4 separate regions of the Homo sapiens genome follow, and regions 1, 2 and 3 are each reported to be linked to region 4. The links are microRNA targets in miRTarBase. Many come from high-throughput screens and were not tested one by one. Region 4 holds a microRNA gene; each other region holds the end of a gene's coding sequence. Distances are from middle to middle.

Region 1 (3,111 bases), not on the chromosome of region 4:
GTGTGGTGGGGAAGGGCAGGCTGGGCCCAGGGAGCAGCATGTGGAAGGGCACAGAGGCCAGAGTGGGCTTGGGGCAGCAGTGGAGTGAGGCCACCAGCTGACTGTCAGGGTCTCTCTCCCCAGGTGATGGGGAGGAAGTACATCCGGCTGTATTCCCCGCAGGAGTCAGGGGCTCTGTACCCTCATGACACGCACCTTCTCCATAACACGAGCCAGGTGGGCACTGGGGGTCTGGGGTGACGTTGCAGGTTCTCCCCACTGCCCCTGGAGATGATGACGTCCTTTGCTTTCTTCAGGTTGACGTGGAGAATCCCGACCTGGAAAAGTTCCCCAAGTTTGCCAAGGCCCCATTCCTGTCCTGCATCCTGTCTCCTGGAGAGATCCTGTTCATCCCGGTGAAATACTGGCATTACGTGCGGGCTCTGGATTTGAGCTTCTCGGTCAGCTTCTGGTGGTCGTAGCCAGGATAGGAGCTGAAAGGGCCTGACATGCAGACAGCATTCATCTGTTCACTAATTTCCTGGGTCCTGGAATCTATAGAGACAAGCAGGACTGAACCTGTGTCCTGAAGAGCCTTCACTGCCCAGTGGCAGCCCTGGGGGGCTGAGCTCCAGCACTGGACAGGCACAGAGCAGGGGCTGCCCAGGAAGGAGCACACTCCAGGCCAGGGGTGCATGGCAGAGGAAGGTGGGGAGAGCCCAGAAGGACATTGCAGACAGACAGCCTGCATGGGGACTCTGGCATCAGAAAGCCGAATGTTTTTGGGAAACGGGTGGGTCACACAGGCAGGGGTGAAACATGGGCTCTGAGGTTGGCTACCTGATTCAAACCCGGCCGCGCTGTGCACCTGCTGGGTGACTTGGCCAGGATCCCCCACTTCGCTGTGCCCATATGGAAAAGAGGGCAAGGCCAGTCCTCACTGCCGAGGGCCGAGAAGGCGGTGCCGAGCCCCTGCTGCTGCATGAACCTTAGCCGCTGTCACTGATCCCAATTACTCTGATCCTTTTGCCCTTCCTTCCCATAACGGCCTGCTGGACGCCACAGCCTGAATACTGGAGAGAGCTGGGCATTGCCCAGGTCACAGGAGAGAGTCCGTAGAGACCTGCGCAGGAGCCGGGACCCCTGCTGAGCAGTGGGAGCTTTCTGTCATCCCCATGGCTCAAGGATAACCTACCTGCCTGCAGAGAAGTGCGAAGGTCTTGCTGGATGACTTTTCACCCGCACTCACCCAGGAGCAGGCTCCCAAGTGAAGAAACCACCGAACCATCACCAGCTCCTAGAAGCCTCCCTCCTACCACCTTCTAGTCACCATCCCCCAGAAGTAATGACTCTCAAACCTGGGGGATTTGAGGCCAGGGGGAGAGCCAGGCTCTATGCTTTCTGTAATTGTGTCTCGTTTGTGTGCACGCAGGTTTGTTTTATGTTTTGGCCATTAAGATTTTCCCCAGCCCTCTGTTTTTTGTTTTTTAAACTAAATAGAGATGGGATCTTGCTATGTTGCCCAGGCTGGTCTTGAACTTCTGGGCTTAAGCAATCCTCCCACCTTGGCCTCCCAAAGTGCTGGGGTTACAGGTGTGAGCCACATGCCAGCCTTGGCTTCTTTCTTCCCCGCTTCTAAGATAGGCCTGGGGAAAAGAGCCCTGAGGGTTGAGCTGCCATCCTGCCAGCATCCTGCCACTGGCTCAGCTGCTTGTCTTTTAGCCAAAAATCAAGCAGCCCCAGGAAAGATTCTGGTTGGCCAGGAGGTAGCTACCCTGGGGTAACTAGAAGGGGGATGGGAAAGTGGCTGTGGGCAGCTGAACTCCAGCTCCTGATGCCCTCTACCCAGGCCAAGGAATTTGACTTTATCGTGTAGGTCCTGGGGTTCTCAGCCTTTGAGCAGACACAGCAGAATCTGCATTCTCGAAAGCTGGCTGTTGGCAGGGAGAGGCCGTGATACTCATCCTGGGAGTGGGCTGCCGAGGGGCCATGGGCGTGCTGGGGAGTGACAAACACAAGAGCTATCTGGAAGCTGAGTCCACTTGGCTCCGTGGGCAGCTGTTTGCAAGGACATTGTTTATTCCCTGCCATGGTTAATAGTGAATTACCTAATCTTTCACAGGAAGAATTTACACCAGATGTCAACACCCCTGAAAGTAGCGAGGCATAAAACAGGGACGCCCTCATGACTAGGTTCGCCATTAGTGAGGAGGGGTGGCGGCCCGGCCACAGTGGGCTGTGACTCCTGGCCCGCCTGTGTAACTCAAACCCCTTCCCCAGCTGAAGGACAGGTGGACTGTGGCCCCAGCTCCCAGTGCCTAGCCGCTCCAGCTGGCAAGCCCCACGGCCCATCTGTAGTGTAGCGTGACAGAAAGCTGGGCACGGGAGGCCACGTTCATTAACGTGTGGTATCCTGGCCAGGTGGCTTCAAGCAGATGTCCCTTGTCAGATGAGGAATGGGAAAAGGGGAAATGTCCTGCCCTGTGGGTGAGGACACGCAGCATCTGGAACTCCTCATGAGGGTTTTGAGTGAGTGCTAGTGTGCGTTGTGGGACGTTCATGTCGGTGTTATCATGCAGGGGTTGGAGGCAAGAGAGACAAGCAGCAGGAGGGCTGGTGTCCCCAGTGGCCAAGTGCCCAGAGGCTTCCTGAGTCCCCAGCCAGGACTGACTCGAGCTCAAAGAATGAACAGCCAGAACCACAGGACAACTGGGACAGTCCGGAGCTGCCCCGGCCCCTCCTGCAGGCATTATTTGCTAGTTGGCTTTTTGCCTTCTGGCGTCCATCTTCCCGTCTTCCAGAACGGCAAGCTGACTGCATTCTGGAGAATGACCTCTGCCCCAGGGATGCGGTCCTGGAAGGTCTGTACATCAGCTCCTCCCTGGACCGGCATCTTGAGGGCGTGTCGGGAGGAGCTCAGACAGGCTGGAGCCGACCCCCTGTGGCAGCAGCGCCCGCAGTGACAGAATTGTCTTGACATCCATGACCCTTATTCCAAGGTCTCCCATTCTAGACTGGTCCTGCCTTCCTGTCATTTCTGCAAGCCACCTCATACGTTTCCAAAAAACCCCTCTTTAGGTGAGGCCGGCCGGGGCTGGCAGTGGCTGAACGTACTGGGCTTACCAATGGGCG
Region 2 (3,111 bases), not on the chromosome of region 4:
GGAGTGGGAAGCCACAGCCTGTCCTCGTGACCAAAGCCCCTGCAGCTGATCTCTTTCTAGTCCTCTGCTTGTGCTGTAGAAGCTTGTCCCAAATCATTTCCTGTTCTTCCTCCAGGTTGAACAGATCAGCCTAGAGAGTGTCGACATGGACAGCCCCGTCAACATGAAGTTCAACCTCTCCCACCTCGGCTCTAAGGAGCACATCCTGGAACTAAGGCCCGCCATCCAGCCCCTCAACAACCACATCCGTTATGTCATCTCTCAAGGGAACGATGACAGCGTCTTCCGCATCCACCAAAGGAATGGGCTCAGCTACTTGCACACGGCCAAGAAGAAGCTCATGCCCGGCACATACACACTGGAAATCACTAGCATCCCTCTCTACAAGAAGAAGGAGCTTAAGAAACTGGAAGAGAGCAATGAGGATGACTACCTCCTAGGGGAGCTTGGGGAGGCTCTCAGAATGAGGCTGCAGATTCAGCTCTATTAACCCTTCACAGACTTGGGCCCAGGCTCAAATCCTAGCACAGCCAGTCTGCAGAAGCATTTGAAAAGTCAAGGACTAATTTTAAAGAGGAAAAATAATAATAACTCTTGTTTCTTTCCTCCCTGTCTTAGACTTTGAATGTTGACCCTCACAGGGAGGGATAATTTAGACTCTGGTATGGCCAAAGATTTGAGCACAAAGGCAACCGTGGTTACTGTATTTTTTATATAACTTCATTTTAAAATATATTAAAAGAAACCTAAATGTTCAAGATATCAGCATATGGCACTAAATGCACAAAAATAATGTGAGCTTTTTTTTTTTTTCCTGTTAGCAGTCTGTAACACTTTGGGTATTTTGCTATAGTTGCTAATTAAAAAAATATAGATGTTTATTTATTTTTAATGCAGTAATATATGGAGAAATGAACAAACTATGTAAACAAAAAGGGAAACTCACTTGTTTTTCTTTAGATTTATAAATTTGAGCTATTTTTTTTAGAGGTGCTTTTTAAAAATCCAATAGATACAAGAGATGTTTCCTTTGGTTTTCTGCCAGTCATCCAGCTGATACACACCTGATGATTTTAAAGAAAGCCACACAGAGCTGAATGGGCAGTGTAATCAATAATTTAAAAAACATGAATGTCATTAGATCCTTTATAACGTAGATCGAAGCCAAAGCAGCTCATTTGTGACAACATTTCATATCACCAGACACACCAGGCAACAGAAGTTGAAGCACAACCACTGTAGCAAAATACCTTGACTGCTTGTGAGACCATTAGCATTGCAGGCCAAACCGTACTGTATTTCCTTCTCATAACCTCAAGGAACCATATGTGCTACCCACAACACCTCATTCTTACCCAGGGTGCGCTGCGTCCTCATGGTACTGTAGGCAGCTGAAGAACCGCCGTTCCCTTGAAAGGGAACACCTGGCATTCTGTGGTGTTTCGTGCTGTCTTAAATAATGGTGCATTTATTATGTTCAAGTTATTTCAGGATTGCCATATGTGCAAACAAATCATGCAATGCAGCCAAGGAATATATGTTGTTGTTGTTGTTTTAAACCCATTTTTTTTTTAGAATTTTCATTAATACTGTAGTTATACACCATATGCCTCATTTTATCATAGCCTATTGTGTATGAAAGATGTTTGTACAATGAATTGATGTTTAGTTTGCTTTAGTCATTTAAAAAGATATTGTACCAGGATGTGCTATTAAGAGCACGTATCCATTATTCTTCTCAACCCAAGAACCTGTTTCCTGGACCAGTGACCAAACCTCATATGTGAAATGGCCAAAGCACATGCAGGCTCCTGGTTGTTCCTCTCAAACCTGTGCTGACCAAAGATTAGTAACCAGTTATACCCAGTATTTTGAGGTTTTATTGTTTTTTTAATAACTAAAAAGAAAAAAGGAACAGTGTAAATTTGTAATCAAGAGTTTGTGAGGAAAAACTTATGGTTTTTGGTTTTGTTTGTTTTTGTAGGTCTGTGTATCAAATATGACACTTTTCTTGCAATAAAGCTTATTTTGGGGTATTTTTCTGACTGAAAATTTTATGAGACCACAACGCCTGTTGTATTTGCGGGAGGGGCTGGGGGCTTTGTCTATGGGAACCTGTATTGAAGTAATAATAGAGAGCCAGACACACAGGAAAATAAAGGAATGCTGGCAAATCTGTGAAGCAAAGTCAACATGTGTTCAACTGATGATTATGATTTGAAGTTACATTCAAATAGAAGGACATAAAGTCATTTACTTATGCATAAATTCTAAGCTTCCTGGGACCCATCTTTCTGGAAACTTCAAAGAATTTCTTCACTTCATGCTAATGCCCCCATAAAGTATCCATGAGGAAGTGAAACATTCTTTTAGAGAATCTTACTTCTCTAAGGTAGAAATTTCCTGAACCCAAGTTTTTAAGCAAAGGTAATAGCGGGCATACCCCAGGCCAAAAGGCATTTTCAAAAATAATCTAAACCTTATCTCTTAAAATGGTATACAGTTTATTCACTGGAGAAGTGGATAGATTTAACAAAGTATTTAGCATGAACTCCCTTTTGATACACTGCCAAAACAGGCACAGAAATGTTTCCAAGACTCTTAGAGATTAATTTAATACATGGTTTAAGAATTTATGCGCTTAAATTTTTTATCCAAGGAATAAGTAAACAAGGAAATATTGTGACTGATCTTAGTGCTGTTCTTTGCCAATCAGAAATTAGCTGCATGGAGTAAGAAAAGTATTTGCCTCAAGGCGTTCTTTAAAACTTAACATGCATATTCAGTTTCATCTGGCATCTATTATTGGTACAGCATGAGTATTGTAATATGAAATTACCTGGAACCAAATTTGACTCTAGCCTTGAAAGTTGAGCAACAACATTTAATTTACCTTTAACTGGCTCTTAAAGAAGTTTGAGAATCCACATCTTTAGGTGCTTTACGTAGAAGATAAAAAATGATGAGGGGTTTAAGAGAAGAATGAAGTAGAAGGAAATGACCACTGCAAGACACTCCTTCCAGGAGGAAATGTCTCAGGTACCTTTGGTAGCTTTGTTGCCATTTTTTTACTGTGAACACTGACAAAATCAGAATGAATTTGTCTGTCTC
Region 3 (3,000 bases), 39 Mb from region 4:
TTGAAATGACAGAGTTTTAGAAACTGAGCTCTTTGTACCTGGCCAAGGGCTCTGATCAGCAAGGTGCCCCTGTGTTATCTACCCAGTGCAGTGCTTCACCAGGATGGCAATAAAAGTATTTTAAGTCAGTGAGTAATGAGAAACCATGATGCCCTACCAATTGGACTGGATCAGCTTGCATGTCAATCTAGTCCACTGTAAGCTGGAGAAAGTTACATGAATTCTCATCGACGGCCTCAGCAATGTGCCTCAAGTGTCACTGTGAGATCATTCCCTGCTTCCTGGAGACATGCATTAGCAGTGAACTTCTTCCAAACTTCCCTGTCATCACAGTCAAACAATTTTTGAGACACACCAGAAACACCAGGGAAAACAGAGTCCTCTGTACAAGTCCTTAATCAGGGAATACTCAATGTTTTTCCCTGATGAAGGACTTGTACAGGGCCACTAGCTGCTCAGGTTTATATGCCTCCTGGGTCATTACGAGATCTGAAGTCTAAGTTGTACTTCCCAGACCTGGAAGAATACAAAGGCAACTATGCCCATGGCAGTTACATATTATCAATGTAGCCAGCTTTCCCAAGTGCATTCCACAGCAGCTCTAGCCTTCTTTATTCTCTAGGATATATAGCTTTCTATTGCTGCCATAAGCAATCACCACCAATTTAGCAGCTTAGTCAACATACACTTGCTATCTTACAGTTCTGTATGTCAAAAGTATGACATGGGCAGCACCAGGCCAAAACCAAGGTATCCACAGAGCTGCCTTCCTTTCTTGGCTCTAGGGGAGGATTTGTTTCCTTGCTCATTTGGGATACTCATAGAACTCAGTTCCTTGTGGTTATGTGACTGAAATCCATTTCCTTGCTCATTGTTGGCCAAGGGCCGTACTCAGCTGCAAGGTCATCACTCTCCTTGGCTCATGGCCCCCTCTTCCATCTTCAAAGCCAGCAATATCATAACTTCTGACCTCTCTGACCACAGACATAAAAGGCTTTCTTCTCTGCTTTTAAGGACTCATAAGATTACACTGGACCCTTCTGGATAATACAGGATAATGTCCCCGTTTTAAGGTTCATAACCTTAATCATATCTGCAAATCCCTTTGGCCAAGTAAAGTAGTATATTCACAAGTTCCAGGGATTAGGACATGGACATCTTTAGGAGACATTATGCAGCCTACCACAATCCCCCACATTGGCAGCAGCTTTCTCACATTTCTCTTTGATGACACGGCTCAAGTGTGCTAAGCCTTGGCTCTAACGAGCATGGCTTCCCTGAAGTTTGCTGACGGGGAAGATTATGAACTCCTATACTGCCAGCTTATTGCCAGATTGAGAACCATTGCTGGTCACAGTGAAAGCTGGAACTAGCAGGATGCCTTCAGAATTGCCAGCAAATTCACAATTCTGTGACAGCAGGGAGAATCCCTTTTCGGCAGCTCCAGCCTTACAAACAGCAAAAGAGATTCCCAGTATAATGTTCACTCCAAATTTAGACCTATTGTCAGGGTCAACTGTCTCTATCATCAATTTGTCAATCCTCTTCTGTTCTATAACATTCAGGTGCTTGCTAATCAGGGCAGGCTCAATAGTTTTATTGATGTGCTCAACAGCCTTTGAAACATTTTTTCCCATAGCTAGTCTTCTCCTCAACTTGAGCTTTAGGGTCTCATATACAACAGCTGAGGTACCATTGGATATAGTTCTGAAGAGATCTTTCCCAGTGCAGGACCCATCTCAAGAGGGGGATTTCCTGGAAAACCAGAAACCTCTCTGACAAAGAGCTGGAGAACAGAGATGGTGAATTTCTACTCCTATTTCTTGTCACTCAGAAAAAAGGGACAGAGGAAAGGGTACTGCAGATGTCAACTGGGAGCCCACAAGCTCACAGGTCTCTCCTTTATTCCCCTGAGCCTTGCCCTGCTCAGCCTCTTTTGCTACATAGATTTTTAAAATCTCCCTCTATGATCCTGATGTACAACCAGATATGAGAACCACTAGTACAGATTATAATGAGAAGCAACTTTTTAGTTACTTCTAGGTAAAAAATTTAGGTTATATAATTTTTCAAACAAAACATACATTCCCTTTTTATTGGTCATAATGTAGAGCATCTTTCAAGCTAAATTATATTATAATTATTACATGATACTCAATCACTAAGCCAGTTTCAGAAAAGACAAACTTCATATTTCAATTTATTCAGTAAGGGGAGGTCAAAAATGAAGGCTTTTTTCCCTTCTACCATATTCGCTAAATTTATGTTTAAACCTGATATATATTTTATAACACTATTTAAGTTATGGCTTTTTCTAAACCAGTGCTTTTTAAGGTAATAGTTATAAATACAACTGTTTTGAGAAAATAGGAAATAAACACTTTCACTTGCTGGTTTCTAGTTCATTATTCCCTTTGTCATTAAGATGATAATGCTAGACAAATTAATGTTTAGACATAAACAGCAAACACAATTTTAACATTTTTCATAATATTGAGAGATGTTTCAGTATTATATAATCAAAAAATCTATTACAAATACACATGTATACATCTTATAAAAATACATTTAAAAACAAAAATGGGACAAATACTGGGTCATTATTCCTCCAAAGGTGAGCTGGTATTATGAAGAGGCTTTGATTTCTTTCTCTTTATCAGGATATTCTTCCACCTCTGAGGAGAACATTAACTCTGGAGAAGAAAATGAACAGATCATACTTAAAATTGTTTCCCAGTACCTCCAACAGAGTTGTATAGCTTATTTATAAATAGTCCTTTAAAAAATTGACATAATATATACTAATAGAAAGCCCTCAAGTAAGATTTCTTGACAGTGAAATATGATTTAAAAGGTAAGCTGATAACAAATGTACAAGTTTTACATTTTAAAATATTTAAATTTTAAATTATAGACCCCTTAAAAGTAAAATGTAATAGAGACAATATACACAATCCTACCTGGAAATTTAAGTCACTTAGAGAATCAAAGATCATTAAA
Region 4 (3,111 bases):
TCGGGGCGCCCGGGACCCCCAGGGCGGCGACGCTGCCGCCGGTGCCGCCGAGCCTTTGTTCCGCCGCCGGGGCCGGTTTCACGCCTGTCGCCCTCGCAAGCAGCCGCGGGTGACAGGAGCCTTAGCCGGCCTGGGGCGCGGACCCTCCCACCCGGGGCAGAGGTGTCCCTACGACGCCCCTCGGTTTCGGGTCGCAGTGCGCGGCGGAGGTTCTGCGGCGGCGGAGGGGCTCCTTGGCGACGCTGTCATTTGGGTGAAATGGTGGCGGGGGGGCTTCGGGCAGACGGCAGGGGTGTGGGGAGGGGAGGGAAGCACGATGGGGTGAGTCTGGGGGCCGTGGATGCCGTTGACGAGGAGCTGAGATGCCGTGGCCGGTCCACCTCGCAGGTGGGGCCAAGGCTGCCTCTGGCTCAGACGTCAGGAGCCCAGGCGGACAGGGACTGGCCAGGGGCGCAGGCTTCTTAGAGGATGGGGCAAAAGTGAGGAAAAGATCCTCTGCAGCCTGGGCAGTGGGTGGTCCCCAGGAAACCCCCTGGGTCGTTTGTCCAGTGCACCCTCACCCCAGGAGGCTGCTGGACGTGCCGGAGGATGCCACAGCCACCGGAGCTGGTTGGGGTCCGAGAGCAGATGGGCCAGGGGCTGGGGCAGGCTTCGAGAAGAGGGTTCGGGCTTGGGGAAAGCCTTCGCAGCCATCGGCCAGCCAGGAAGGCCCCGTTGCCGGGTGCAGAGCTGAGTAGAGGGCAGGAGCGGGGAGGCCTAGGCTCTTCCCTTGCGTGTTGGGGGGCTGCGGTGCCTGGAGCTCTGCACACAGCCCTACTCCAGCACCGTGGGAGGCAATGCAGGCTGACTGTCCACGCCAAATTCCGGTACCTTAGGCATTCGAGTCTGTTGACACTGAGTGTCTAGGACGAGGCTGTAAAGGTGGATAAAGCCGGCTTTACAGTCTGCACCTCCTGTGTGAGCCGTGGAAGCTTCTGGAGGGATGGGCGTGGCGTGGCGCCATCATCTCTCTGCATTCTCCTTGGGAGGGCTCCAGAGCCACTGGTCACGGGCAGCTGCCAGGCTGGGTCTGGACAAATGAGGTCTGGGTCCATCATTGGGGATGGGGGCCACTGTCAGGATGGGAGTCTCGCCTAAAGCTTTGGGGTGAAGGTGCTGATGACCAAGAGGAAACTGCGGGGTGGGGACATGTCAGCAGGGGACGAGAATGCATGACCTAAAAGGTATCCAAAGTTAAGGCTGGTGGGGGCTTAGTGAGGAGCAGCAGAGTGGGGTGGTCCAGAACCGTCAGGATCGGGAGGGGGAAGATGGAACGAGACAGCAGCTGCCTACGAGCCAGGGAGCAAGAGCTCTGTGCTTTAACCTGAGGAGCAGGAGCCTGGGAACTGGAGACTCTGGGTTTGAGGTGGGGGATGAATCTGCCATTAAACAAATAATCCCCTTCCCCCCCAAAAAAATCCTCAGAGCACTGGGGAAGGGAAGTGTCCCAGTGACTGAGGGAGGGGAGCGCTGTGGAAGGATGGGTCGGCTACAGCAACTTCAGCCCAGGGATCAGGGAAGAGAGGGTCCAGTCCCTGGCCCAGCGGGGAGCAGGCCCGGTGACCTTGACCTGAGCAGCCCCAGGGCCAGAGGGAGGGGTGGGCCGGAAGGGCCCAGATGCCTCCCTGCACGGGGGGAAGGGGATGGGCTGCCGGGACTCACCCCCTAGGTTGGAAAATGCCTCCCTCTGGGTTGGAGGAGGAGAAAGGCCAGGAAGGAGAGGGAGAGGGACATGGGGAGGGTTCCCTCCTGGCCTGAGGCCTCTCTATCCCCAGGTGTTGAGCTGAGAGAAGTGGTGGGGAGGCCCCTGGGGGTGGGGAGGCCCCTGGGTGGGGAGATTTAAGATGACAGCTGGTCTTGGGCACATTGCTCTCCATTCAGAAAGGCCCCAGCCCCTGGCATTCTTCCAGGAGGGGGCTTGCTTTGCCGCCCTGCAGGGGGACTCTGCAGAGCCGGCCTCTGCCATCTCATGTCCAGGACCACAACCTGTGGCCCCGGCCTGCGCCGGGCCGGAGCTCCGCAGAAGGAAGCCAGCGGGAGGCCTCCTGCCTTTGACTGCCGTGCGTCCAGCCTGCAGCGGGCCTCAGGGGGCCGCCTCGATCCAGCCTGCCCGAGGCTCCCAGGCCTTCGCCCGCCTTGCGTCCAGCCTGCCGGGGGCTCCCAGGCCGGCGCCCGAGCTCTGGCTCCGTGTCTTCACTCCCGTGCTTGTCCGAGGAGGGAGGGAGGGACGGGGGCTGTGCTGGGGCAGCTGGAACAACGCAGGTCGCCGGGCCGGCTGGGCGAGTTGGCCGGGCGGGGCTGAGGGGTCGGCGGGGGAGGCTGAGGCGCGGGGGCCGGTGCGCGGCCGTGAGGGGGTGTGAGAGGTGGCTGACGGCGCCGAGGAGCCCCTCAGAACCTGCAGGTGGGGGGAGCTCCCATATCTTACGGGTGTTTCGGGCCTCACCTCTCCATGCCTCTCGTCAGCCTCTCCCGTCTGCGTGGTGGGGGCTGGGGAGTGGGTCCGCCGGGACCTCGCGAGGGAGGGGCACAGGAGGAGCCGGCGGGGGACGCCACCCACCCTCCTCCCTAGGAGTGCTTGAGCCCTAGTCCTGAGTCTTGGACCAGCTCACTCGGTTCCTGTGGCCCAGCCAGCCTGGCCTGGGTGCCCCGTCACAGCTGAGCCCATCTCAGCTGAGCCCAGGGTGTGTCACCGGGAAGCTCAGCTGGCACCTGCCACCCCCTCCCCCAGGCACGTTTCCCTCCCACTGCCCAGCCCATTACCATCATGTGTCCGGCTGACCTGTGCTCTCCTGGTCTGGGCAGCCTGGATGGGTGCACAGGGCCCCATCACAGCCCACACCCTCGGAGAGACGCCTCCTGAGTCTGCTCAGCCTGGCACAGGCCCCAGGAAAGGACCCGGAGGGGCGGTTCCTGCTCTAAATCCTGCCCCCACGGGGGTGGGACTGGGGCAGAATCCCATCAGTGAATAAAGGCTGCAGAGTGAAGGATGGTCCCTGGCGAGTGTACCTGTGTCCCAGTCTTCTTGCCTGAGGGCGCCTTCCCACCCATGTGAGGAGTGGGGAAGGAGCACCC

Evidence for each region. The annotated mature microRNA hsa-miR-149-5p reads UCUGGCUCCGUGUCUUCACUCCC and lies in region 4 at 2,218-2,240, shown strand. An mRNA with a match to its seed (bases 2 to 7 or 8) in the 3' UTR can be bound and repressed. Matches are read on the target gene's strand: a 7mer-m8 pairs with bases 2 to 8, a 7mer-A1 pairs with bases 2 to 7 and ends in A, and an 8mer does both.
Region 1: miRTarBase lists KDM8 as a target of hsa-miR-149-5p. Seed matches in the 3' UTR shown: 7mer-m8 at 1,362-1,368.
Region 2: miRTarBase lists FBN2 as a target of hsa-miR-149-5p. The part of its 3' UTR that is shown has no 7-base or 8-base seed match.
Region 3: miRTarBase lists TMEM237 as a target of hsa-miR-149-5p. The part of its 3' UTR that is shown has no 7-base or 8-base seed match.

What each region holds. Positions count from the first base shown.
Region 1 is chr16:27,220,270-27,223,380 of GRCh38, forward strand. It overlaps KDM8 (lysine demethylase 8), which reads left to right. Exons shown (of 8, transcript NM_024773.3): 7 at 124-216; 8 at 297-1,499. The coding sequence ends at 461. Among named protein-coding and RNA genes, the nearest start is that of KDM8, 18 kb to the left of the region's middle. RefSeq lists an enhancer at 2,126-2,811.
Region 2 is chr5:128,256,834-128,259,944 of GRCh38, reverse strand. It overlaps FBN2 (fibrillin 2), which reads left to right. Exons shown (of 65, transcript NM_001999.4): 65 at 116-2,036. The coding sequence ends at 490. Among named protein-coding and RNA genes, the nearest start is that of SLC12A2, 170 kb to the right of the region's middle.
Region 3 is chr2:201,621,630-201,624,629 of GRCh38, forward strand. It overlaps TMEM237 (transmembrane protein 237), which reads right to left. Exons shown (of 13, transcript NM_001044385.3): 13 at 1-2,693. The coding sequence ends at 2,626. It also overlaps the pseudogene ENO1P4. Among named protein-coding and RNA genes, the nearest start is that of CATSPERT, 4.0 kb to the left of the region's middle.
Region 4 is chr2:240,453,798-240,456,908 of GRCh38, forward strand. It overlaps MIR149 (microRNA 149), which reads left to right and starts at 2,204; the gene lies at 2,204-2,292. The region is part of intron 1 of GPC1 (glypican 1); the gene reads left to right. It overlaps GPC1-AS1 (GPC1 antisense RNA 1), which reads right to left and starts at 2,903. Exons shown (of 3, transcript NR_161169.1): 1 at 2,800-2,903. RefSeq lists an enhancer at 1,504-2,154.